Linked DNA regions of Homo sapiens: regions 1, 2, 3 and 5 are each linked to region 4. The links come from fine-mapping of genetic effects on gene expression. A gene starts in region 4. Each other region holds a variant in brackets. All regions are shown on one strand. Distances are between the middles of the regions.

Evidence for each region.
Region 1: its variant is fine-mapped to the expression of ZCWPW1 in amygdala (GTEx, PIP 0.95).
Region 2: its variant is fine-mapped to the expression of ZCWPW1 in whole blood (TOPMed, PIP 0.99).
Region 3: its variant is fine-mapped to the expression of ZCWPW1 in whole blood (INTERVAL, PIP 0.97).
Region 5: its variant is fine-mapped to the expression of ZCWPW1 in whole blood (INTERVAL, PIP above 0.99).

Annotation. Positions count from the first base shown.
Region 1 is chr7:100,748,891-100,753,990 of GRCh38, forward strand. It overlaps ZAN (zonadhesin), which reads left to right. Exons shown (of 48, transcript NM_003386.3): 12 at 1,735-2,006; 13 at 2,292-2,376; 14 at 2,822-4,339. Among named protein-coding and RNA genes, the nearest start is that of ZAN, 18 kb to the left of the region's middle. The variant G/C (reference allele first, on the strand shown) is at 2,447.
Region 2 is chr7:100,571,749-100,576,848 of GRCh38, forward strand. It overlaps SAP25 (Sin3A associated protein 25), which reads right to left and starts at 2,152. Exons shown (of 6, transcript NM_001348680.2): 1 at 1,849-2,152; 2 at 1,549-1,652; 3 at 1,358-1,464; 4 at 1,112-1,265; 5 at 906-1,003; 6 at 480-823. The coding sequence starts at 1,994. The coding sequence ends at 539. LRCH4 (leucine rich repeats and calponin homology domain containing 4) reads right to left here. Exons shown (of 18, transcript NM_002319.5): 14 at 4,946-5,029; 15 at 4,490-4,575; 16 at 4,123-4,260; 17 at 3,957-4,034; 18 at 2,263-3,556. The coding sequence ends at 3,359. RefSeq lists enhancers at 1-84, 3,016-3,570, 3,571-4,124. The variant G/A (reference allele first, on the strand shown) is at 2,287.
Region 3 is chr7:100,503,014-100,508,113 of GRCh38, forward strand. No RefSeq gene overlaps it. Among named protein-coding and RNA genes, the nearest start is that of NYAP1, 22 kb to the left of the region's middle. The variant A/G (reference allele first, on the strand shown) is at 2,541.
Region 4 is chr7:100,425,770-100,430,869 of GRCh38, forward strand. ZCWPW1 (zinc finger CW-type and PWWP domain containing 1) reads right to left here and starts at 2,934. Exons shown (of 18, transcript NM_001386010.1): 1 at 2,799-2,934. MEPCE (methylphosphate capping enzyme) reads left to right here and starts at 4,062. Exons shown (of 4, transcript NM_019606.6): 1 at 4,062-5,100. The coding sequence starts at 4,250. RefSeq lists silencers at 2,412-2,461, 4,282-4,751 and enhancers at 2,622-2,851, 3,872-4,011, 4,882-4,961.
Region 5 is chr7:99,851,998-99,857,097 of GRCh38, forward strand. It overlaps CYP3A43 (cytochrome P450 family 3 subfamily A member 43), which reads left to right. Exons shown (of 13, transcript NM_057095.3): 8 at 3,594-3,721; 9 at 4,836-4,902. Among named protein-coding and RNA genes, the nearest start is that of OR2AE1, 22 kb to the right of the region's middle. The variant C/T (reference allele first, on the strand shown) is at 2,738.

The sequences.
Region 1 (5,100 bases), 320 kb after region 4:
CTAGATGTGGTGGTGTGTGCTTGTGGTCCCACCTACTTGCGAGGCTGATGTGGGAGGATCGCTTCAGCTCAGAAGTCAAGGCTGCAGTGAGCTATGATTGAACCAGTGCACTCCAGCCTGGGCAACAGAGCAAGACCTTGTCTCTAAAAATTAAAAATAAAAAAATAGGCCAGGCATGGTGGCTCACGCCTTTAATTCCAGCACTTTGGGAGGCCGAGGCAGGTGGATCACTTGAGGTCAGGAGTTCGAGACCAGCTGGGCAACATAGTGAAACCCTGACTCCACTAAAAAAAATGTAAAAATTAGCCGGGAGTGGTGGCGTGCACCTGTAGTCCCAGCTACTCAGGAGGCTGAGGCAGGAGAACTGCCTGACCCCAGGAGGTGGAGACTGCAGTGAGCTGAGATCGCACCACTGCACTCCATCCGGGGCAACAGAGTAAGATTCTGTCTTAAAAATATATAAAAAGAGGCTGGGCGCAGTGGCTCACACCTGTAATCCCAGCACTTTGGGAGGCCAAGGAGGGCGGATCACAAGGTCAGGAGATCGAGACCATCCTGGCTAACACGGTGAAACCCCGTCCCTACTAAAAACACAAAAAATTAGCCAGGCATGGTGGTGGGCGCCTGTAGTCCCAGCTACTCGGGAGGCTGAGGCAGGAGAATGGCGTGAGCCCGGGAGGCAGAGCTTGCAGTGAGCCGAGATCACGCCATTGTACTCCAGCCTGGGTGACAGAGTGAGACTCCGTCTCAAAAAAAAAAAAATATATATATATATATATATATATACACACACACACATATATATACACACATATATATATACACACACACACATATATATATATAAAGAAATAATTTTTTAAAAAGACAATAATGAGGGTGGGGTGCAGTGGCTCACACCTGTAATCCCAATGCTTTGGGAGGCTGAGACGGGTGGATCACTTGAGGCCGAAAGTTCAAGACTAGCCTGGCCAACATGGTGAAACCCCACCTCTACTAAAAACACAAAAATTAGCCAGACATGGTGGTACACACCTGTAATCCCAGCTACTTGGGAGGCTGAGGCAGGACAATCGCTTGAACCTGGGAGGTGGAGGTTGTAGTGAGCTGAGATCGTGTCACTGCACTCCAGCCTGGGCAACAGAGCGAGACTCCATCTCAAAAAAACAACACACACACACACACACACACACACACACACACACACACGACATTAATGAATGTAATCTAGGTTGCTGGTTTGTTATTCCCTTTTTTTCTTTTTTGAGATGGAGTCTTGCTCTGTTGCCAGGCTGGAGTGCAGTGACGTGATCTTGGCTCACTGCAACCTCCACCTCCGGAGTTCAAGCAATTCTCCTGCCTCAGACTCCCGAGTAGCTGGGACTCCAGGCACGGGCCACCACGCCCAGCTAATTTTTGTATTTTTAGTGGAGACGGGGTTTCACCATGTTGGCCAGGATGGCCTTGATCTCTTGACCTCGTGATCCGCCAGCCTCGGCCTCCCAAAGTGCTGGGATTACAGGCATGAGCCACCGTGCCTGGCCGCTTTTCCCTTTCTTTGTGATCCCACCTTCTTTAGTTAGATGTCTAAAATGAGCAGAAAAAATAATGCTACGACCTGGGAAATTTGAGTGTTTGCTCAGATTCCCGTTCAGAAAGCAAAGCTTTGCTAAAGCAGCAGTTGGCATGTCCTGTGCAGGCTTCTTACCTTGCCTGTTCCCTTCCTTTGCCTAGGGGGTCACTATATCTACCTTGAGGCTGACGAGTTCTCCCAGGCAGGCCAGTCAGTCAGACTGGTGAGCCGGCCCTTCTGCGCCCCAGGTGACATCTGCGTGGAGTTCGCATACCACATGTATGGCCTTGGGGAGGGTACTATGCTCGAACTCCTCCTGGGAAGTCCTGCGGGGAGTCCCCCGATTCCTCTCTGGAAACGCGTGGGGTCTCAGCGCCCTTACTGGCAGAACACCTCCGTCACCGTCCCCTCAGGACACCAACAGCCCATGCAGGTGAGAGACGGAGGCGGGGGTCCTGTCTGTGTGAGGTGAGAGGGCCAATGCCTGGGATCTGGGGGCGCCACCAGTGCTGAAGAGGTGGAAAGCTGGAAAGAGAGCCGAGAAAAGGGGAACTTCGTGTTACAGAAAGTGAGAAAGGGGCCGGGATGGGGCTGGACTGTTGAGGCTGGAACAAGGCGACATTTTGGCAGAGAACAGATTCTATGCCCAGTGGAATCACAGAGTTGCTGGAGATTCATTTTTGTTTCTCTCTCCGTCTCTCTCCCTTGTCGCCTTTAGCTTATTTTCAAGGGCATCCAGGGAAGCAACACGGCCTCTGTGGTTGCTATGGGTTTCATCTTGATCAATCCTGGGACTTGTCCAGGTAAGACCAAAGCCCAGGCTCCAGGAAGGGGGCGGTGCCCTGAGGTTCCCTGGAGTTCTCTCTATGAACT[G/C]CTTAAAATGTGAGTCCTCCCTGGAGCCCGAATTCTCACCCAGCTGGCTTTGTTTTCCATCTTCAACACACCTCTCCTTCCCCTGCACTTCAAGATGTTTGCCTGGGTGAATGTGGCTTCGATACCATGGATTTTGGGGGCTGGATCCAGAACTCCTTCCTCTGCAGTCTTGAAGGCTGGACCCATATCCTATTCATTTCTGGCATAATATCTGACATATATTAGTGTTCGTTGAGTGGATGAAGGTTGGGGTTTGGGAGTAGAAAGAGAGGTGTGAATAAGCCACCCATGGGAGCCCACTCCAGTTAGATGGCAGTAAAGAGGGTGGTGGTATGGTTTTGACTAAACTCCAGGGATTCTTATTTTTCTTTGCAGTAAAAGTGCTACCAGAGCTTCCTCCCGTATCTCCAGTTTCTTCCACTGGCCCTTCTGAAACCACTGGCCTCACAGAAAACCCTACAATCTCCACCAAGAAACCTACAGTTTCCATAGAAAAACCCAGTGTCACCACAGAAAAGCCCACAGTCCCCAAAGAAAAGCCCACCATTCCCACAGAAAAACCCACCATCTCCACAGAAAAACCCACCATTCCTTCAGAAAAACCCAACATGCCCTCAGAAAAACCCACCATTCCCTCAGAAAAACCCACCATCCTCACAGAAAAACCCACCATTCCCTCAGAAAAACCCACCATTCCCTCAGAAAAACCCACCATTTCCACAGAAAAACCCACCGTCCCCACAGAAGAGCCCACCACCCCCACTGAGGAGACCACCACCTCCATGGAAGAGCCTGTCATCCCTACAGAAAAACCCAGCATCCCTACAGAAAAACCCAGCATCCCCACGGAAAAACCCACCATCTCCATGGAAGAGACTATCATCTCCACAGAAAAACCCACCATCTCCCCAGAAAAACCCACCATCCCCACAGAAAAACCCACCATCCCCACAGAAAAATCCACCATCTCCCCAGAAAAACCCACCACCCCCACAGAAAAACCCACCATCCCCACAGAAAAACCCACCATCTCCCCAGAAAAACCCACCACCCCCACAGAAAAACCCACCATCTCCCCAGAAAAACTCACCATCCCCACAGAAAAACCCACCATCCCCACAGAAAAACCCACCATTCCCACAGAAAAACCCACCATCTCCACAGAAGAGCCCACCACCCCCACTGAGGAGACCACCATCTCCACAGAAAAACCCAGCATCCCCATGGAAAAACCCACTCTCCCCACTGAAGAAACCACCACCTCTGTTGAAGAGACTACCATCTCTACAGAAAAACTCACCATCCCCATGGAAAAACCCACCATCTCCACAGAAAAACCCACCATCCCCACAGAAAAACCCACCATCTCCCCAGAAAAACTCACCATCCCCACGGAAAAACTCACCATCCCCACGGAAAAACCCACCATCCCCATTGAAGAGACTACCATCTCCACAGAAAAACTCACCATCCCCACAGAAAAACCCACCATCTCCCCAGAAAAACCCACCATCTCCACGGAAAAACCCACCATCCCCACGGAAAAACCCACCATCCCCACTGAAGAGACTACCATCTCCACAGAAAAACTCACCATCCCCACAGAAAAACCCACCATCTCCCCAGAAAAACTCACCATCCCCACAGAAAAACCCACCATCTCCACGGAAAAACCCACCATCCCCACGGAAAAACTTACCATCCCCACGGAAAAACCCACCATCCCCACAGAAAAACCCACCATTCCCACAGAGAAGCTCACAGCCCTGAGGCCACCCCATCCCAGCCCCACAGCCACTGGGCTGGCAGCCTTGGTGATGTCTCCACATGCTCCAAGTACCCCTATGACCAGTGTGATTCTGGGCACTACCACAACCTCCAGATCCAGTACAGGTATGAGGTGGATGGAGCGTGGGCCAAGGCTGAAAGTCAGAGACAATGACTAGGAGACAGTCAGGGAAAGGGATGCTTCTGGTAGAAGCCTTCTAGTTGCTTCTAGATGCTTCTAGTACTCTCAGAGGAGAGCTGAAGTAGTCCATGGCGACTTCAGAGGAAATGGGGAGGACTGCCCAGAGCGAGAGGGATGGCAGGGCTGGAGTGGGTGGGGGTGTCAGGACTGAACCACGAGGCTTCCTTCTCGTTGTTTGTTATTGAGATATAATCCATATTTCATAAAATTCACCCTTTTAAAGTGTACAATTCTAGGCCGGGCACGGTAGCTCAAACCTGTAATCCCAGCACTTTGGGGGGCCAAGGCGAGAGGGTTGCTTGAGCTCAGGAGTTTGAGACCAGCCTAGGCAACATAGTGAGACCCTGTCTCCACTTTAAAATTAAAAAAAAAAAAAAATTAGCTGGGTGTGGTGGCGCACGCCTGTAGTCCCAGCTACTCGGGAGGCTGAGGTGGGAGGATCACTTGAGCCTAGGAGGCTGAGGCTGTAGTGAGCCATGATTGTGTCACTGCACTTCAGCTTGGGCAACAGAGCAAGACATCGTCCTAAAAAAAAAAAAAAAAAAAAAAAGCAAAAGCAATTCTGTGGGTTTTAGTATATTCCTAAGGTTGTGCAACCATCATCACTTTCTAATCCAAACACTTTCATCACTCCAAAAAGAAATCCTATACCTATTAGCAGCCACTCCCCACTCCGCCTTCCCCC
Region 2 (5,100 bases), 150 kb after region 4:
TTTCTCAGCTGAAACCCTGATCCTGTTTCTCTACAGAGTTCGTGCAAGAATCTCTAGAGTCTCAGGTAGGCTGCGGCAGGGCCACCTTTCTGCCAGTGGTGACATTTACATGGACCGGCACCCTCCCCCACACACCTGCAGTGCATTCTTTGTGTCTCCTCTGAGCCAGACAACTACCCCACCCAGCCCAGAACTGAACTCCTGGAGCCCCAGCACAAGAGGTGTGGGGCTAGTGTCCCCTAAAAGTGAGGTGCCCCTACTTACTCCCCCGCCTGCTTCCTATACATTCAGCCCTGCACTGCCATGCAGACCACCCACCCACTCATTAAAGGGGCTCTGCCCAGTCAGCCCAGAAATGCCTTAGGTCATGGATACCCTCGCCCTCCGCCTAACACAGCAGGGGGTGATCTGCAGTGAGACAGAAAGAGACCCCATTCCTGCCTCTATGACTTACTCTGCTCCCAGCCACACGGAGCCTGTTTTGCAAACCAACACTGTTTTATTGTCAACACAACCAGCCCACTCTGCCCTGAGAAGGCTATGGACAATGGGTGTCTGGGGTCTGTGGGAGAGAGAGGTCAGCACCCTGAGAACTGCTGGGGCTACCACAGGGGCTGGGTGGGTCAGAGGTATGGTCTGGGGGGCCAACCGCGGAGGAGCTGGGCCTAGGCTCCCCCTGGCTCATCTGCAGCAGGCCAGTGAGAGCGATCAGCTCCGGCCCGCTGAGCCAGGCAGTGGAGGGGCCCCGGGAGGGTGATGGGCGGGGGAGCACCCTGGCAGACATGATGGGGGGCGGCGGCAGCAGTTTCAGGGAGCCCATCATCTGAGGAGAGAGAATGGAATGTGTTTCCTGCCAGGCAAGCCTGGAGGCTGGGGTAAGGACAGGGAGGGGAAAGAGCTCTCACCTGCTGGGGGGCCTTGGACAGGTACAGGGGAACACGCTGCCCCCGGGGCAGCAGAGGGTCCGAGAGGAAGACATCTTCACAGCACACCACCGGGAACCCTAGGAGGAAACACCACTAGGGTGGCGGGCTGCGGGCTCCCACCCCTGGGCACTGGTTCCCAGAGGAGTTGGGGCAGCCTTGCGCCCCCGGGGGACCAAGGGAGGTACCTGCATCTGGGGGCGCCTGCTGTCCATTCCAGTGCCCTGTGGCAGGGGCCACGGGCCTGAGACCCCTGCCCGAGGCTGCTTCATACAGCGGCCAGAATGAGGGGTGACACAGCGTCCGGCCTGAGAACGAGGCTCCTGAGCTACAGTTGGCCCCCTAGGGTGAGGAGGACAGAGCACTGGAGCCTCAGGCCACCGCACAGCTCCCTGAGCACCCCAGCCAGTCCCACAGGTTTGCCCCCAACTCACCCACACCGGCCGAGGTCCTGCTTTGGCTTCATACTTGGGGTCCCAGGGCGCTAGTGGAGTCATCCTCGAGGGGGCCACCTCCCAGGCCACCTGGGGGGAACGGGGATCTGGGGGGACGCTTGGGGATTATAACAGGCTCACAGTCAGTGAGAGGCTCTTAGGGGTAGTAGAGGCAGCAGGGCCTGTCCTACCTGGGGCTCCGGGGGGCTGCTCAGTGGCCGGGCCTGGCAGGTGGTGGGGCAGCAGCAGCTGCTCTCTCCAGATCCAGGAAGGGCTACGGGATGGGGGCTGTGGGCTGGAGGGGCAGGGACTGAGGCTGCAGCCACACCGCCCCCACGCACCCTCCCCTGGAGCCCAAGGGTGCCTGGTGCAAGGGAGACCGAGGGACCCAATCTCCAGCAGGGACAATGGAGAAGCCTCCGTAGAGCGCGTGGTGAAGGCATGGAGGCCCCCAGTCGCTGTCCCCCCACGGCTCCGTCCGAGCCCCTCACCTGTCCCATGGGGGTGTCCCCAGCTCCCTGGGGGCGTCCGCTCCGGCGCTCCAGGGCTCGCCCTGGTCCTTGCCCGCCGGAAGGCCTGGTCCCTCGGGCGCCTCCTCCGGGCCCGCGCCCCACCGCGGCGGCGACCAGGGCAACATTCCGCGTTCCCGAGCGCAGGACGGTACCGCCGTGTCCCCGCCGCCCGGCCCGGCCCTCTCAGCCTCCCTCCGCGGCGCGGCGCGAACGTGCCCTCCTGGCGAACCCACCCCAGAGGCCTCGCGGCGACGCTGGCGCCCTGTGCGTCTCCCGGCCACGTGGCGCGTGCCCCCGCCGGGCTCCCGCGGGCGCCCCCTGGCGACTGGGCGGTGAATTCCGGAAACAGAGGCCCCCCCAACAACCCCGCGACGCACGTGCTCTCAGACACAGTTACACCTGAGGGCCACCCAGAGG[G/A]CTTCTGGCTTCTGTTTATTGCGGCTGACACGACACCTGCGACACCCGCGGTCCTTCCACCCAGACCCTCGACCCCAGAGGCAGCCAGGCCGGCAGGCCAAGGGTGCCCAGGCCCAGGCCACCCTCACCACGTGCTTCTCTGAGAGCGCGGAGCCCAGGCGCGTCTTCTGCTCCCGGGGTCCCGGGCGGGGTGGGCCCTGTGCCCCCACCTTCACCCCTAAGGCCGGTCCAGCAGGGCGTGGACGACAGCAGCGATGTAGGGGAGGCCCCTTCCCGGGGCCCCCTCCTCTTCCAGGATGTGGTGGGGCTGGCACAGTGACTCCTGGGGGAAGGGGCCGGGTTAGCTTCCCCACGGTGCCCCCTGCGGCTTCCGGCCTGTGGCAGGGGGTCGGGGGCAGACCCGAGCATCACCGTGCGCTCGGGGCTCGGCGACAAATGAGACGCAAGAAAGCTGTCAGCGATAACAGAAGGGAGGTGACACGGGGGGTTGGCGGACGCTCCGGGAGCATGAGAGGCCGGCATCTCAGGAGGGAGATGCTGGTGGGCACAGAGCCATGGCCACAGCCACCAACACGCGGAGCAGACGCGCGCGCGCGCGCACACACACACACACAGGCAGGGCGGCCACGGTCTGTACAGTTTATACACAGAGATAGGGACCCGGCCTGGGCCCCGAACCCCTACAAATATAGATCCTCTCTACAAAATAGAGATAATTTAGCCCCCCCATAGCAGCTGTTGGGGGGGGAAGGGGAGGGCACAGGAGGAAGGGGGAGACTCCAGCTCCTGCCACCCCTCACGGGGTACAGAGGGCAGGGGCAGGGCCGGCGGGGACATGAAGGCACCGTCAGCACTGAGAGGTGGGGACTCGTGGGGCTACTGGAGGGAGGCCAGAGGCTGGGGGCCCAGGGTCTGGGGGCACCAGAGTGGGGCCTCTGAGGTCAGTGTCTGTGAAGGGGGTGCACTAGTGTCTTTGGTTGGGGCTGAAGGCACCGCAGGTGGGGTCGGGTGGAGCAGGGACCTTATAAATAGAGAGGAAGGGAAAGGGGTGAGGGAGGGCCGATTTTGGGGCCTAGGAACCCAGGAGCCGAGTGTAGGTGACATAGAGCAGCAGCATGAGGACCACGTAGAAGACGACGAAGCCGCCCAGACCAGAGGGGGGCCAGAGGGGCGGTAGGGCCTTGCCCCCCACCCGCTTCACGGCCTCCAGCGCGGTCCGCAGCCCCCGGGCAGTGCCCTGGAGGAGATCCGAGGGCGAGCACAGGTCAGCCTGGGGGAGAGGAGAGCAGGTGGACAAGGACAAGGGACAGACGTCAGCAGCAGCAGCAGGACAGTCCCTCCCACCCCTGCCCTCACGTGCTGGGGCCAGAACCACGCCCACATGCTGACGTGCTGGGCAGGGGGAGTGCAGTGCAGGAGGAGTGCAGGGCAGGGCATGTGCAGGACAGGTGACATGCAGGACAAGATGGGGCCTGCAGGGCAGGGGATGTGTAGGACAGGTGACATGCAGGGCAGGGGGCATGCAGGGCAGGGGGCATGCTGGGCAGGGCAGGGGCAGCCTGTGCCTTCATCTGAGAGCAGACATCCGCTGCAAATGGAAGCCCACCATCCATGCCACATGCTCGGCTGAGTCCGGCATGCCACCACTCTTTAGAAAGCAGCCCCCATACCTCAGGCACCCCCATTTTTCGACAGGCTTCTAGAAAACTCTCCACATTCTTCCGAGCCTTGAGGGCACTGAGTTTTGGCTGGGGTGGGTGAAAGAAGAAAATGTGGTAAGGGAGAGGCCACAGGCGCCCCGGCCCATCCCCCACCTCTTCCCCAGCCCCAACTGACCACAGCAGGGGAGGGCACATGGATGAAGGGCACGGAGCGCGGCCGTAGCTGGTTGGCCAGCTGGCACAGGATGACCCCACTGGCCAGAGCCTCGGCCAGGTCCTCAGGCAGGGGCCGCTGCAGCCGGGACTCAAGGACCTGGCAGTGTAGACCACATAGAGCAGGGGTCAGGGAAGGAGAGGCGTCTGGGAGGCAGGGAGAGTGGGGGGCTCAGGGCTAGCAGGGAACTTGTGCCTGTCCCTTCCTGTCCTCAGGGGAGGTGCCAGAGTGGGCACAGAGGATGTGGAGGGAGGCTGGTCCCAAGGACAGCAACACAAGGAGGTGCCCGGCCCAGGCCCCTGCCCACGCAGCTCCCGCCTCTGCTCACCTGGCGCAGCTGAGTCATTAAGTCCTTCTCATCTGGAACCTGGGGGTACCGCCGAGGTCTCAGGACAGAGTCTGGTGAGGAAGGGCCTAGGAGAAAAAGGGGGGCATGGGGCTGCCTCCACTGCTCACCACTGACTCTGTAGCTGGGTCCCAGTGGCCTGGCACCTACACCTCCTGCCTCTCTGCTTGTGGGATTTTTTTTTATTTCATGGAGATGGGGTCTCGCTATGTTGCCCAGGCTGGTCTTGAATTCCTGGGCTCAAGCGATCCTCCCACCTGGGCCTCCTAAAGTGCTGCGATTACAGGTGTGAGCCACCACACCCGGCTTGCTTGTGGGATTTTCAACGCAAAGGTACAAAAGGTACAACAGACCCAGAGGGCTCCCAGGGCAGAAGGGTGATGTAGCCGTTGGTGCTGGCAAGCACTGGGTCAGCACTGGGGAGGGCAGGACACCCACCTGAGCCACTCTGAGAGGAGGAACGGAAGAGGAAGCTGTTTGGTCTCTGAATGGAGCCAAGTGGCCGTGGAGCAGGTGCTGTCGCTGGGGCCGGAACCAGGGACACAGCGACAGGGGCAGGTGAGACAGGCATCCCCTCTGTGTCCCTCTCTCCC
Region 3 (5,100 bases), 77 kb after region 4:
GCTTCCCTTGCTCCTCTCTCTCTACCACCTCCACGTTGCGTCCAGGATGGGGTGAGGAGCATGTTGGCTGGGACTCGTCCAGGCCACACACTGACCTCTGCCACCACCCTGGGGGCAGTCTTTGCCACCATGAAAAATGGCTGGGAGCCAGGAGCCACAGGGTGGAAGCACCAGAGATGGTGTCACCACCATTTAAAAAAATTTCCACTGACCCGCCGGGCGCGGTGGCTCATGCCTGTAATCTCAGCACTTTAGGAGGCCAAGGGGGGCAGATCATGAGGTCAGGAGTTTCAGACCAGCTTGGCCAACATGGCAAAACCCCAACTCTACTAAATACAAAAAATTAGCTGGGCATGCTGGCACGCTCCTGTAATCCCAGCTACTTGGAAGGCTGAGGCAGGAGAATTGCTTGAACCCGGGAGGTGGAGGTTGCAGTGAACTGAGATTACGCCACTGCACTCCAGCCTAGGCAACAGGGCGAAACTCCATCTCAGAAAAAAAAAAAAAATTTTCCACTGACCAAGTGGTGACCTCATGCTGATGTTTTTTGATGTTCCTGCCTTAAAGCCCAGGAATGGGTGTGAGAGCAACATGTACACATTCCAGAAATTTCAGAGTAATGAGGGGGAAACCTGAAAAGATTAGAACTAGAGGGGAAATTTTAAAGATGCGCACTATTTATTTCACTGCCCATGTAGATCTGAAGTTATTTTGCTCGCTAGTAACATCAAATGTAGCCTTGTATTTGGGTCGTAAAGCTGTCATGGTTGGTCTACTTACAGATATGAAAATCTAAAAAAATGGAGAACACTTCCCCCCATTTAGATTGGTGGCTAGGTGAAGCAAAAAGGCTTACAGTGGCTGGGTGCCGTGGCTCATGCCTATAGTGCCAGCACTTTAGGGTGTTGAGGCAGATGGATCACTTGAGGCCAGGAGTTCGAGACTGGCTCGGGCAACATAGAGAGACCCCCGTCTCTGCAAAAAATAAAAAATAATAATTAGCCAGCCGTGGTGGCACATGCCTGTAGTCCCAGCTACTCAGGAGGCTGAGGTGGGAGGATCGCTTGAGCCCAGGATTTCAAGGCTGCAGTAAGCTATGATCACACCACTGCACTCCACCTTGGGCAACAGAGCGAGACACCCTGTCTCTAAAAACAAAAACAAAAATCTATCTGCAGACACCCTGTCTCTAAAAACAAAAACAAAAATCTATCTGCAATTGAACTCATTACTTCCCCAACCAGCCCTCATGTCTTGGACTGACCATCTCAGCCAGTGTCATCACATTCAGTCTCCCAAGGCAGAAACTTTTTTTTTTTTTTTTTGAGATGGAGTCTTGCTCTGTCACCCAGGCTGGAATACAGTGGTGCAATCTTGGCTCACTGCAACCTCCGCCTCCCAGGTTGAAGTGATTCTCCTGCCTCAGCCTTCCGAGTAGCTGGGATTACATGCGCGCGCCACCATGCCTGGCTAATTTTTGTATTTTTAGTGGAGACGGGGTTTCGTCATGTTGTACAGGCTGGTCTGGAACTTCTGACCTCAGATAATCCTTCCGCCTTGGCCTCCCAAAGTGCTGGGATTACAGGTGTGAGCCACTGTGCCCGGCCTTAAGGCAGAAATCTCTATGTGGAAGTACATGGTTTATTTCTCTCTGACACACACCCATTATTAATTAAGATGTCAGTTTACCTCTTTCAAAACAGACCCAGGCTGAGCATGGTTGCTCACACCTGTAATCCCAGCACTTAGGGAGGCCAAGAGGGGCAGATCACTTGAGTTCAGGAGTTTGAGACCAGCCTGGTCAACATGGCGAAACCTCATCTCTACTAAAAACACAAAAATTAGCTGGGCGTGGTGGTGGGCGCCTTTAGTCCCAGCTACTTGGGGAGGCTGAGGCAGGAGAATCGCTTGAACCTAGGAGGCGGAGATTGCAGTGAGCCAAGATCACGCCACTGCGCTCCAGCTGAGGAGACAGAGCGAGACTCCGTCTCAAAGAAAAAACAAACAAACAAAAAACCCAGACCCAAAGAACAGTGGTTTAACCTAAATGGGGGATTACATCTTGCTCATATAAGGGTCCAGACATTAGCAATCCATAACAGATACGGAAGCTGCAGTTCATCAGGAGCCAGGCTCTTTCTAACTGGTTGCTCTGCCGTTCCTAGGGTTCTGCTTTTGTTCCACAAAGTCTGAGGGGCTTTACTATCAGGTCCACTTTGTACTCAGCAGGATGGTGCTTGCCTGGGGTACAATAGACATGACAATTAACCCTCAAAATACCTAAGAGGTAGTGGTTTTATTAGGTTGAACTATATGAAATTGCCATTTTGGGGTCAAATATAATAGAATATTGGCAATTTTATGTCATTCAACCCAGTGGTATCTCTGAAGATAAAAGCTCTGACACACAGAGAGGTCAAGTAACCTGCCCAAAGTCACACAGCAAGTGAATGGCAGAGAGGGGCTTCAAATTCAGAGCCTCCCTGGAAGCTGGGCCCGAGGAAGATTCTTCAGTAGATAAGGCTTGGTTCCTGTCCCCC[A/G]TGCACTTATAACCTACTTGCAGGGCAACATATGAACACTGGAACTGTAATCACAGTTCAAAAGAGAAACAAGTTTGATACAGCTACATAAGAAACTCATGAGGCCTGGCGTGGCGGCTCACGCCTGTAATCCCAACACTTTGGGAGGCCGAGGCAGGTGAATCACTTGAGCCCAGGAGTTCAAGACCAGCCTGGGCAACATGGCAAAACCCCATCTCTACTAAAAATACAAAAATTAGGCCAGGCCCGGTGGCTCACACCTGTAATCCCAGCACTTTGGGAGGTCAAGGTGAGTGGATCACGAGATCAGGAGATCGAGACCATCCTGGCTAGCACATGAAACCCTGTCTCTACCAAAAATACAAAAAAAAAAAAAAAAAAAAAAAATTAGCCGGGCATGGTGGCAGGCGCCTGTAGTCCTAGCTACTCGGGAGGCTGAGGCAGGAAAATGGCATGAACCCACTTGCAGTGAGCCGAGATCACGCCACTGCACTCCAGCCTGGGCAACAGAGCGAGACTCCATCTCAAAAAAAAAAAAAAAGAAAAACAAAAATTAGCCAGGTGCGGTGGCACATACCTATATATATATATTAAAAAGGAGGTCCCTGCCAATCCAATTAGCTGGTAGAACAAGACTTTTTTTTTTTTTTGGAGGTAGGGTCTCACTCTGTCACCCAGGCTGGAGTGCAGTGGCATGATCAAGTCTCACTGAAACTTTTGCCTCCTGGGCTCAAGCAATCCTTCACCCCTGTCTTCTGAGAAGCTGGGACTACAGGCACACACCACCATGCCTGGCTAATATGTTTTGTACTTTGTAGAGTCGAGGTTTCACCATGTTGCCCAGGTTGGTCTTGAACTCCTGAGCTAAAGTGATCCGCCCACCTCCACCTCCCAAAGTGCTGGGATTATAGGTTTGAGCACTCGTGTCCAGCCAGTGTTACAACTTTTATTGAAGCTTCAGTGCACAGCCGCAGCAAAGGTACGGCTCCTTGCAGAGCAGGGATGACCCATAGGCACTGTGTCCAGAATAGCAGCTGAGAGGCAGACCTAAACTCATTTATGCCCATTTTTAATTATATGCAAATTAAGGGGTGGCTTATGCAGAAATGTCTAGGATGAGGGTGGTAACTTCCAGGTCGGTAGGTGGTTGCCATGGAAAGGGGAGATAACTTCTGGGTGTTGTCATGGCAACGGTAAACTGACATGGCACTCTGGAAGGGATGTCTTTATGGAAAGCTGCTTCTGTCCCAACCCATTTTTAGTTGGTCCTCAATTTGGTCTGGTGTCCGTGCCCTGCCTCTGGAGTTGAGTCTTGCCTCCTACCTCAACAATCATTTTTTCTTTTCTTTTCCTTTCCTTTCCTTTTCTTTCTTTTCTTTTTTTTTTTTTCTTTTTTTTGTAAGACAGGGTCTCACTCTGTTGCCCAAGCTGGAGTGCGGTGGTGTGATCATGGCTCACTGCAACCTCAGCCTGCTGGGTTCAGGAGATCCTCCCACCTCAGCCTCCCAAGTAGCTGGGACTACATCGCGCACCACCACACCTGGCTAATTTTTGTACTTTTGATAGAGACAGGGTTTTGCCATGTTGTCCAGGCTGGGATAATTCTTTAATTCTGTGCTATTTAACAAAAGTGTGAGGTGCTATCTATGTAGACTTGGGTCTTCATCACGCTTGGTGGTGTGTGCCTGAGTGAGCGTACATACTTCCATAGCCCATGGATTTCTTTCTTTTTTCTTTTTTTGCGATGGAGTCTCGCTGTGTCGCCCAAGCTGCGGTGCAGTGACCCAATCTCAGCTCACTGCAACCTCCACCTCCCGGGTTCAAGCAATTATCCTGCCTCAGCCTCTGGAGTAGCTGGGATTACAGGCATGTGCCACTACGCCTACTTTTTGTATTTTTAGTAGAGACGGAGTTTCTCCATGTTAGCGAGGCTGGTCTCGAACTCCTGACCTCAGGTGATCCACCGCCTCGGCCTCCTAAAGTGCTGGGATTACAGGCGTGAGCCACCACGCCCAGCCACCTGTGGATTTCTTTATGTCTCTCCACCTTCTCACTTTGAGTTTATATGAGGCTGGGTTATGTCTTTCTGTGTTTTCCTGGGTCTTGGCATTTGTTTCTATCTCTTCCCCTCTCTTTCCTTCTGTCCTTTGTTTCTCCATCACACTGTCTCCTGACATCGATCTCTTCCTGTATCTTTGCTCTATAATTGCCCCATATAAATCCTAAGGATATATTTTATTGTTCATTGCACATATTAAATAGTTTGATGTGCCCTGCCCCTTAATTTAAAATGCAAAGAACAGGCTGGGTGTGGTGGCTCACGCCTGTAATCCCAGCACTTTGGGAGGGTGAATCACCTGAGGTGAAGGTAGGCGAATCACCTGAGGTTGGGAGTTCGAGACTAGCCTGACCAACATGGAGAAACCCCATCTCTACTAAAAATACAAAATTATCTGGGCGTGGTGGCACATGGCTGTAATCCCAGCTACTCGGGAAGCTGAGGCAGGAGAATTGCTTGAAGCCAGGAGGCAGAGGTTGTGGTGAGCTGAGCTCGCGCCCC
Region 4 (5,100 bases):
CTTTTGTTTAGGAGAATGTATTTTTCATAAAAACCTGTTTAGGTTAACATATTTATTATTGTTATTTCTAATCAAACTTTAAATGTTTCTGAATTTTAATTTCTAAAATGTTAGTATCAACAGATACAAACCAAATAAAAGCTCTTTGGAGTCCTCCATAAATTTTAAGGGTATAAAAGGGTTCTCAAACCAAAAAGTTTGAGAACTGACCTAGTGAAATAACTTGTCAGTATTGCCAATACTTTTTTAAATAAACAGTAATTCTCTCTCCCCACACACCATTCAGAATGTGTTCCCAAATTTCCTCTTCCTAACCATCCAATCATTCCCTTCCTTATATTGTTCCTCAAATCCTTGGTCTAAGAGAAGTAAACCCTTTAGCATTGTCCTCTAACCCAGACTCCCTGAGCCTCAAAAAAGCGGTATTTAAAGAGTATATTTCAGCCGGGCGCAGTGGCTCACGCCTGTAATTCCAGCACTTTGGGAGGCCAAGGCAGGTGGATCACCTAAGGTCAGGAGTTCAAGACCAGCCTGACCAACATGGTGAAGCCCCATCTCTACTAAAATACAAAAATTAGCCAGCGTGGTGGCAGGCGCCTGTAATCTCAGCTACTTGGGAGGCTGAAGCAGGAGAATCACTTGAACCCAGGAGGTGGAGGTTGCAGTGAGCCAAGACCGTGCTACTGCACTCCAGCCTGGGCAAAATGAGTGAGACTCTGTCTCAAAAAAAAAAAAAAAAAAAAGTATATTTCAAATCTTTTTTAAGCCAGAGTCTGATCTTCCTTTTTGCATTAATAACAGTATGTGGACTCCTGCTTATTTTCATGCCTCAATTAACTAATAGCAGTTTCCTCCCTCCCTCTCACTTTTTCTCCCTCCCTCTCTCCCTCCTTTACTCCTTCCTCCCTCTTCCCTCCCTCTCTTCCTTCTTCCCTCCTTCTGTCTCCCTTTGTCCCTCCATCCCTTCCTCCCCCTCCTTCTCTCCCTCCCCCTCCTTCCTTGCCCTCCTCCCTTTCTCTCTCCCTCTTCCCTCCCTCCTCCCCCTCTCCTTTCTCCCCCTCCTCCTTCCCTTTCCTCCCCCTCTCCTTCCTACCCCCCTCCCCCTCCTCCCTTCCCTGCTTCCCCTCCTTCTTCCTTCCTCTCCCTCCCTCCCTTCTCCCTCCCCCTCCTCCCTCCCCTTTCCTCCCCCTCCTCCCTTCCCCCTTTCCTCCCTCCCTCTCTTCTCCTTCCCTCCCTCCCGTTTCCTCCCCCTCCTCCCTCCCTCCCCTTTCCTCCCTCCCTCTCTTATCCTTCCCTCCCTCTCTCTTCTCCTTCCCTCCCTCTCTCTCTTCTCCTTCCCTCCCTCCCCTTTCCTCCCCCTCCTCCCTCCCTCCTCCCTTTCCTCCCTCCCTCTCTCTCTTCTCCTTCCCTCCCTCCTTCCTTCCTCCCCCTTCCCTCCCTCCTTCCTTCCTCCCCCTTCCCTCCCTCCTTCCTTCCTCCCCCTTCCCTCCCTTGCTTTCTTCCTTCGTGTTTGTGCACAAGCTCAGCAAGCCCGATTTAAAACTTTTAACAAGAAAGAAGAGGCGGGTGGATCACCTTAAGTCAGGAGTTCGGGACCAGCCTGGCCAATACGGTGAAACCCCGTCTCTACTAAAAATACAAAAAAATCAGCCGAGCACGGTGGCGCGTGCCTGTAATCCCAGCATTTTGGGAGGCCAAGGTGGGCGGATCACCTAAGGTCAGGAGTTCGAGACCAGCCTGGCCAACATGGAGAAACCCCGTCTCTACTAAAAATACAAAATTAGCCGGGCACAGTGGCGGGCGCCTGTAGTCCCAGCTCCTCGGGAGGCTGAGGCAGGGGAATCGCTTGAACCCAGGAGGTGGGGGTTGCAGTGAGCCGAGACTGCGCCACTGCACTCCAGCCTGGGCGACAGAGCGAGACAGTCTTTAAAAAAAAAAAAAAAAAAGCCCCAATTCCAAATCCACCTGCAATCCAAAGGGAAGAAGTTTTGCAGAGAAGTTCTTCCCATTTGTGGGGCGCTCCCATTTTTCCTCTCTTCCCTCACCCCTTATTCTCTCTCAGGGATAGCGGTTCAAGTCGGTGTCCCTGAGCCACACGTCCCCCTCTCTCTTCCCCGTCCCCTCCCTTCCTTCCTCCCACCATGAGGGAATCTCCCCTCCACCCCCACTCCTGCCGAGGCCCCGTGATCCTTATTCTCACTCATATCGTTGGTGCCCGCCAGGAGACTGGGCTATTTTTTTTTTGTCTGTTTCTTGGGGGCGACAGATTCTGAGGAAAAAGGGCGAAGGGCTGGTTGTCGCCCTGAGAAAGTTTCTCCTCAGGCAACGGGTGCCAGGACTGGCAGCGCCTAGCACCTTCACCTACAACCAGAAACTAGCTGGCTACCTTCAGGAGCAAGGAGGACCTAAAGGCGATGGGCGGAACCAGCTGCCGCAGCGACTCCGCAAGCCCCTCACACCTCAACCCAGGTTTCCCGCCACCAAGAAAAGGCACGAGGACGCCCTGAGCACTAGCTCCACCCGAGGGCGGTGCGCTCGCGGGGCCGAGGCGCATGCGCAACTGGAAACAGCGTCTGCGTTTCCGCAGCTGAGGTAAATCCGCCATCTTCCACCCGAACGTCCCGGGAAAACTACAAATCCCAGAATCCTCTTTGGTGTCACATATTTTTAGGCGGCGGCCGCGGCGCCTGATTGTTCCTGAAGCACATCTACTAACTTTTCTGTTTCAGACTGCCTTTTCCTCCCTCTTTCCGTTCTCTAATTCCTCCTCTTCCTGCTGGTCTCCTTCACGCCCTCACCTTAGGATTTTGAGACTCTCCTGGACCCCACTGTCACCCCTGCCGCCCTGTCCTCGGCCCAGCACTCCGCTGGCAGGGAGACCGGGCGGCGCATCTCCCCGGGAAAACGGCGTAGACTCGCTTCTTCCTCATTGGCAGAAGCTGGGGGGGCCCAGCGCGGACCGAACCCCCGTCCCCGCCCACACTCGCTGGTATATAAGTCGGCGTGGCGCCGCGGTGGGTGTTGAGAGGCCCGCGAACTGACGGGCCAGTGAGCGGGCGTCGGGAGTGGGCGGATGCGTTGGGGTTCGGGTCGTGGGTGTTGAGGCGGAGAGGAAGGCGTGGTGTGGCGTCTCCAGGTGATTGCGATTGGGGGAAGGTAGAGGAGCCAGAGAACGACTCAGCCGTTTCGGGGGAAGAGGAAGTTGGACAACATCGGCTGTTTTAGTGCTTTTTATTTTTCCCCAATTCAGCAGAGAATATTTTCAAGGGGGGTGAGTTATAATGACCTATCGCGTTTTACTGAGCCCAGTTCCACTCCCGCCCTTCCTTGGCTTTGTAGGGTCTCCCCTCCGCTCCCTCGGAAGCGCTTCTAAGAAGGTGGGCAGAGGGGGGGAGGTTTGCTACCAACAGCTCATGAATAATTCATGAGCCCCGCCCTTCGTCAGGAAGCCCCGCCCCTCCGGATCGCGCTGACGCACGCTGCGTTTACCAAACTTAAGGAAGCGACGTCACAGGCCCAACCCCTAAGACGGGGGGCGGGGCGCCAGTTTCAGCACGTGCTGCCTCTACCCGCGCAAGCCCAAAAGGGTGTGCGCAGGCGCTGCCCACTAGGGGGGAGGAAGGAGGCGGGGTGGGGAGGTTGTTGGATTTAGAGCCGGGCGGAGACCGCTGAGACTCATTCCTCAGGAACAAGGGTCGGGTGTCAAGGAGACCTTTTCACACCAGCTCCCGTCCCCCGCCTACGGTGGGTGGGATCGCGCGGCAGAGACAAAGGAGATCAGTAGGGCCGGACATAGCTGCGCAGGGAAGTAGGGTGTCAGTTTGGGGTGGTGGGCTTTTGCGGGGGCTGTGGGGGGGTTATATTTAAACTCCCAGAGCCGTTAAGTTGGTTCGTAGTCTGATGCGCGCGCAACCAGGGTGGTGGCGGAGTGCGCATGCGTGGTTCCCGGGCGAAGGGAACGCGCGCTCACCGTGCGCGCTCGCGGCCGGGTGGTAGTGGCGGAGGAGAAAGGGGTCGGCGCACGCGCGGTTGAGTCCTCGAGTAGTTCGGGTCTCGCGGGCCTCTTGTTTTGGTCTCGCGGGCTAGTAGGGCGCACTTGGCGGGGAGGCGCTTGGGCGCGAGACTAGGCGTGAAGAGCAGAGCTGCGCGCGCACTCGGGAAAGGGGGGAAGGGAGCAGGGTCCAGGCAGGGGGGGTTAGGCCCCCTGATCCCCCTCGTTACCCCGACTGGCACGGAATAAGGGGAGGAAATGATCGAGATGGCGGCGGAGAAGGAGCCGTTTCTGGTGCCGGCCCCGCCGCCGCCGCTCAAAGATGAGTCGGGCGGAGGGGGCGGCCCCACGGTGCCACCGCACCAAGAGGCCGCCTCTGGGGAGCTCCGCGGCGGGACGGAGCGTGGTCCGGGTCGTTGCGCGCCATCTGCGGGGTCCCCAGCCGCTGCGGTCGGTCGGGAAAGCCCCGGGGCCGCGGCCACCTCCTCCAGTGGTCCCCAGGCGCAGCAGCACCGAGGGGGCGGCCCCCAGGCGCAGTCGCATGGGGAGGCCCGCCTGTCGGATCCCCCGGGGCGAGCCGCTCCCCCGGACGTGGGGGAGGAGCGCCGGGGAGGGGGCGGGACAGAGCTGGGTCCCCCTGCTCCTCCTCGACCCCGCAATGGCTATCAGCCCCACCGGCCACCTGGGGGGGGCGGGGGCAAGAGGAGAAATAGCTGTAATGTAGGGGGAGGCGGGGGAGGCTTCAAACATCCGGCCTTCAAGAGGCGCAGGCGGGTGAATTCGGACTGTGACTCTGTGTTACCCTCCAACTTCCTCCTGGGGGGCAATATCTTTGATCCCCTGAACCTGAATAGCCTCCTGGATGAGGAAGTGAGCCGCACTCTCAACGCGGAGACCCCTAAGTCATCCCCCCTTCCGGCCAAAGGGCGAGATCCGGTGGAGATCCTCATCCCCAAAGATATTACTGACCCGCTCAGTCTCAATACTTGCACTGATGAGGGCCATGTAGTTCTTGCTTCGCCACTCAAGACTGGTCGGAAGCGGCATAGACACCGGGGACAGCACCACCAGCAGCAGCAGGCAGCCGGAGGGAGTGAGAGTCACCCCGT
Region 5 (5,100 bases), 570 kb before region 4:
GCCCAGCTTTATTCTTACACTTGGCTATCCAGTTGTCCTAGGACCATTTGTTGAAAAGACGATTTTGTCCCCATTCAATGATCATGACACCTTCCTCAAAATTCAGTGGACCAGAGACATGTGGATGTATTCTGGACTGTAAATTCTATTCTGTTGAACTATACTTCTATCTTTATGCCAGTATCACATTGTCCTGATTATTAGAGCTTTGTGGTAAGTTTTGAAATTGGGAAGTATGAGTCCTGCAACTTGATTCTTTTTCAACATTGTTCTGGCTACTCTGCATCCCTTACAATTCCAAATCAATTTTAAAATCAACTTGTCAATTTCTACAAAGAATCTAGCTAGGATTCTGATAATACATTAAATCTGCAGATCCATTTGAGAAGTATTGCCATTTTGACCTTTTTAAGTTTTCTAATCTGTGAACACGGGGTGGTGATTCCTTTTATTTAGATACTCTTTCATTTATTTCAACAGTGTTTTGTATTTTTCAGAGTCTGGGTTTTGCACTTTTGTTAATGTTATTCCTGATAAGTGTATCACTAATATTTTGATGTTATGGTAAATACAATTTTTTAATTCCACTTTTGGATTGTATATTGTAACGTACAGAAATACAGTTTATTTCTGTATATTGACCTTCTATCTTCAAATATTTCTGAACACATTTGTTAGTTTTAATAGGTAAATAGAAGTGCTGAGAGAGGTATCCTTGTCTCATTCATGATCTTAGGGGGAAAGGTACTAAGTATGGTTAGCTATGGGTTTCATAGATGCCCTGTATCAGGTGGAAGAATTCTCTTCTATTTTTAGTTGCTGAGTGTTTTTATCACAAAAGTCTTTTGGATTTTTGTCAAATGCTTTTACTCATACTGAGACGATTGTGTGTTTTCATTTAATTGACATGGTATATTACACAACCTTGTTTCCCTGGGGTAAACCCCTCTTGGTTATGGTATATAATTATTTTTATATGTTGCTAGATTGATCCAGTTTGCTAGTATTTTGTTAAGGATTTGTGCATTTATATTTACAAGATATGTTAGTCTGTAGTTTCTTTATCCTGTGATATATTTTTCCAGTTTTAATATGATGGTAATACTGGCCTTATAGAATGAATTTGGAAATGTTCCCTCATTTCCTAGTTTTTGAAAGTGTTTGTAGAATGGATATTAATTCTCCTTTAAATATTAGGTAGAATTCATTATTGGAACTATCTGGCCTGGCCTTTTCTTTGTGGGTAGTTTTGATTACTGATTCAATGCCTTTATATGTTATAGATCTATTCAGATTGTCTGTTTCTTTCCAACTCAGTTTCTGTAGTTTGTGTCTTTCAAAGAATTTATCCATTTTACCTGTTATCTAATTTATACAATTGTTCTAATAATAAAATTGTTAAGAGAATATCCTTATGCTAATTTTTATTTTTCTTAAATGTCAATAGTAATTATTTCCCTTCTTTTATTTCTGAGACTAGTAAACTGAGTCATCTCTTATTTCTTCATCAATGTAGCTAAAAGTTTGCCAATTTTGATGATATTTTCTTTTGTGGTAAAATTTGAGCTTTTTTTTTGAGATGGACTTTTGCTCTTGCCGCTCAGGCTGGAGTGCAATGGCACGATGTTGGCTCACTGCAACCTCCACCTCCTGGGGTCAAGCTATTCTCCTGCCTCAGCCTCCAGAGTAGTTGGGACTACAGGCATGCAATACTATGCCCGGCTAATTTTTGTATTTTTAGTAAAGACAAGGTTTTTACTGTTGGTCAAGCTGGTCTCGAATTCCTGACCTCAGGTGATCCACCTGCCTCGGCCTCCCAAAGTGCTGGGATTATAGGCGTGAGCCACCGCGCCCAGCCTTGAGCTTTATTTTTTATTTTTAACTTTTGTGGATACACAGTTGGTGTATGCATTTATGGGGTACACGAGATGGTTTTGATACAGGCATGAAATGTGAAATAAGAGCATTATGGAGAATGGGGAATCCATCCCCTCAAGCATTTATCCATTGAATTGCAGACATTCCAATTGCACTCTAAATGATTTTAAAATGTACAGTTATTATTGACTGTAGTCACTCTGTTGTGCTATCAAACCATAGGTCTTATTCATTCTTTCTAACTATTTTTTGTAACCTTTTATTATCCTTACCTCCCCCGCCCCCACTACCCTTCCCAGAGTCTGGTCACCATCCTTCTACTCTCTATGTCCATGAGTTTTGAGTTTTGATAATTTTTTTTTTTTTTTGAGACAGAGTCTCAAAAAAGTTGCGTGATCTAGGCTCACTGAAACCTCTGCCTCCCGGGTTTAAGCAATTCTCCTTTCTCACCCTCCTGAGTAGCTGGGATTACAAGTGTCCACCACCATGCCCAGCTAACTTTTGCATTTTTAGTAGGGACGGGGTTTTGCCATGTTGGTCAGGCTGGTCTAACTCCTCACCTCAGGTGATCCACCCGCCTCAGCCTCCCAAAGTGCTAGGATTACAGGCGTGAGCCACCGCGCCCGGCTGATGATATTTTCAAGGAACCAATTTTTGGTTTTCTTTATTGCTTTTAAATCTGTATTTCATTAGGTTACACTTTAGTTTTTATTATTTTCCCCCTTTCTGCTGGCTTTAGTTTTACTTTGCTCTTCATTTTTCAGTGTGTTATGGTATACATTTAGGTTATTGATTTGAGATTATCTGACATTCACAACTATAAATTTCCCTCTGAACATTGCTTTGGCTACATCCCATA[C/T]GCTTTGGCATATCATGTCTTCATTTTTCTTCATCTCAAAACAATTTCTAATTGTCCTTTTGCTTTCTACTTCAGCTCATTGGTTACTTAAAAGTGTATTGTTTAACTTCCACATATTTGTGAGTTTTCCAATTCTCTTTTCTCTCTCTCTCTTTTTTTTTTTCTTTCGAGAGACATTTTCATTCTGTCACTCAGGCTGGAGTACAGTGGCACAATCTCAGCTCACTGCAACTTGCGCCTCCCTGGTTCAAGCGATTCTCATGACTGGGTCCCAAGTAGCTGGGACTACAGGCACATGCCACCATGCCCGGCTAATTTTTGTATCAGTAGAGATGGGGTTCCGCCATGTTGGTCAGGCTGGTCTCAAACTCCTGACCTCAAGCAATCTGCCTGCCTCAGCCTCCCTAAGTGCAATTCTCTTGCTTTTATTGATTTCTAGTTTCATTCCATGGTAGTTGAAGGACATTTGCCGTATTGTTTCTATCCTGACTACTATTTCATGGAAAAACATGATTCATTAAAGCAGCAGGCTATCCAAAGAGACTCTAGTCCAGTAGATAAAGGCTAAGAAGTCAGGGAATTTAATTCTGTTCCTTTGGTCACTCTGAAGATGCAGAAGGGACCACTGATCTCACTGCTATAGTGGAGGCCCCTATGTGTGGATCTGCTCTTGCTCAGCCATTGGCATGGAAGAGGGGCAAAGGTCATACAGGAAGAGGGGCAAAGGTCATACAGGAAATGGATCCTGGTTGAGAACCCTGAAGTCTATAGGTAGAGAAAATTGTAATTGTTGTAGGTAAATTTCACATTTTTCACTATGATTTATTTTTTCTTTTTCTATTTAATTTTCCTATAGCACTCTTTCCATTTCTTACCCCAGTTTTTGAAGCCCTAAATATCGGTTTGTTTCCAAAAGATGTTACCCATTTTTTAAAAAATTCCATTGAAAGGATGAAAGAAAGTCGCCTCAAAGATAAACAAAAGGTAAAATCTGGTGGTGGTGACATGAGAATGTTCACTTTTTTATTATATTTTTGGGCTGTTTACATACGATTTGTGCACTTATCTGTGTTTTTTAAAGGCAGCTAGAGAACTTTAGACCAAGAGGGTTTTTACATTTTGCTGGGAATAAAGAAGGTGAAGCTTGGGGAAGAAAGAGAATGAGTGAAACAGCATTTGGAATTTAATAATAGGCATGACTTTAGTATATTATGGCATAAATAATGTAGAGATAGAAGCTTTACCGCTTCTCTTCCTTTCAGTAAATTGTCAATAAATTTGACTGTATAAAGTTGCCAATAAATCTGACTGGATAAAAATGACTGATAAAATTATTTTATGGGTATTACAATTTCCCTAGTTCTTATATTAGTAAGGAATCATTTCAAGTCCAAGCCTGTTATTTTTACACCTTCTTCAGCAGGAGTCCCTACCAGGCTACCTGCAGAAGTAAGTGTATGTTAAATTTCAGTCCTGTCATAGCCTGGACTGGGCAGGGGTCTTCTCTGGGCATTGTGGGTGCAAGCTGACTGATCCAACTTTGCCTTTATGAGCCCTGGAGACCAGCCCGATGATGATGCCTCAAAGTCAGGAATGCAGGACTGGGTCCCCTAGGTGACACTGAACGTTGTATAGAGTTCTAGGAGTGGGGAGTATTTGAAGATGCATTCAAATCAGCTCCCCTGGGATTATCCAGAGATTAATCTATTTGTCCATTGGTTAAGAATAAAAGCAGCAGAACAAATAGGATTGAAATTCAGGACTTCTTCCTGTTCAAGAAATTATGACTAGAGAATGAGCTGACAACTCTTTGGCCAGGAAGTTGTGTCCAAAGGCCAGAGAAGCTGAGGATCAGGGAGAGCAAAGACTAAAAAGCAGATAGACATGACAAAAGGATTTCTCTCAAGGAAACATCCTGCTCTCCAAGGTTTTAGATGCATGATTTTATTCTAAACATTGGTGACTCAGGCAACACCCATTACACTTCTGAACTTAAAGAGAGCATATTCTCAGGAGGGGTGCTTAGGACTGGACTCCTGATTCACTTCTGACTTCACAAGTGACTTTCTGTCATTAAAATTTCTCTTTTTGCTTCCAGCATCGAGTAGATTTCTTTCAACAGATGATCGACTCCCAGAATTCCAAAGAAACAAAGTCCCATAAAGGTAACCAAGAACTGCATCTGGGGGCTACTGATGGGGACACTCAGAGAGAAGGCCCTGTTCTGAAAATGTGCAGAAAGTTTTCCAGGAAAATGAGAATTTCTTCCACATTGCAGAAAGGCACACATTTGGATGTTATAAATGATAGCTGGAGGCACTTTCTAGAAGCACACAGGCATAGCCACATTCCAGGCTTGAAGG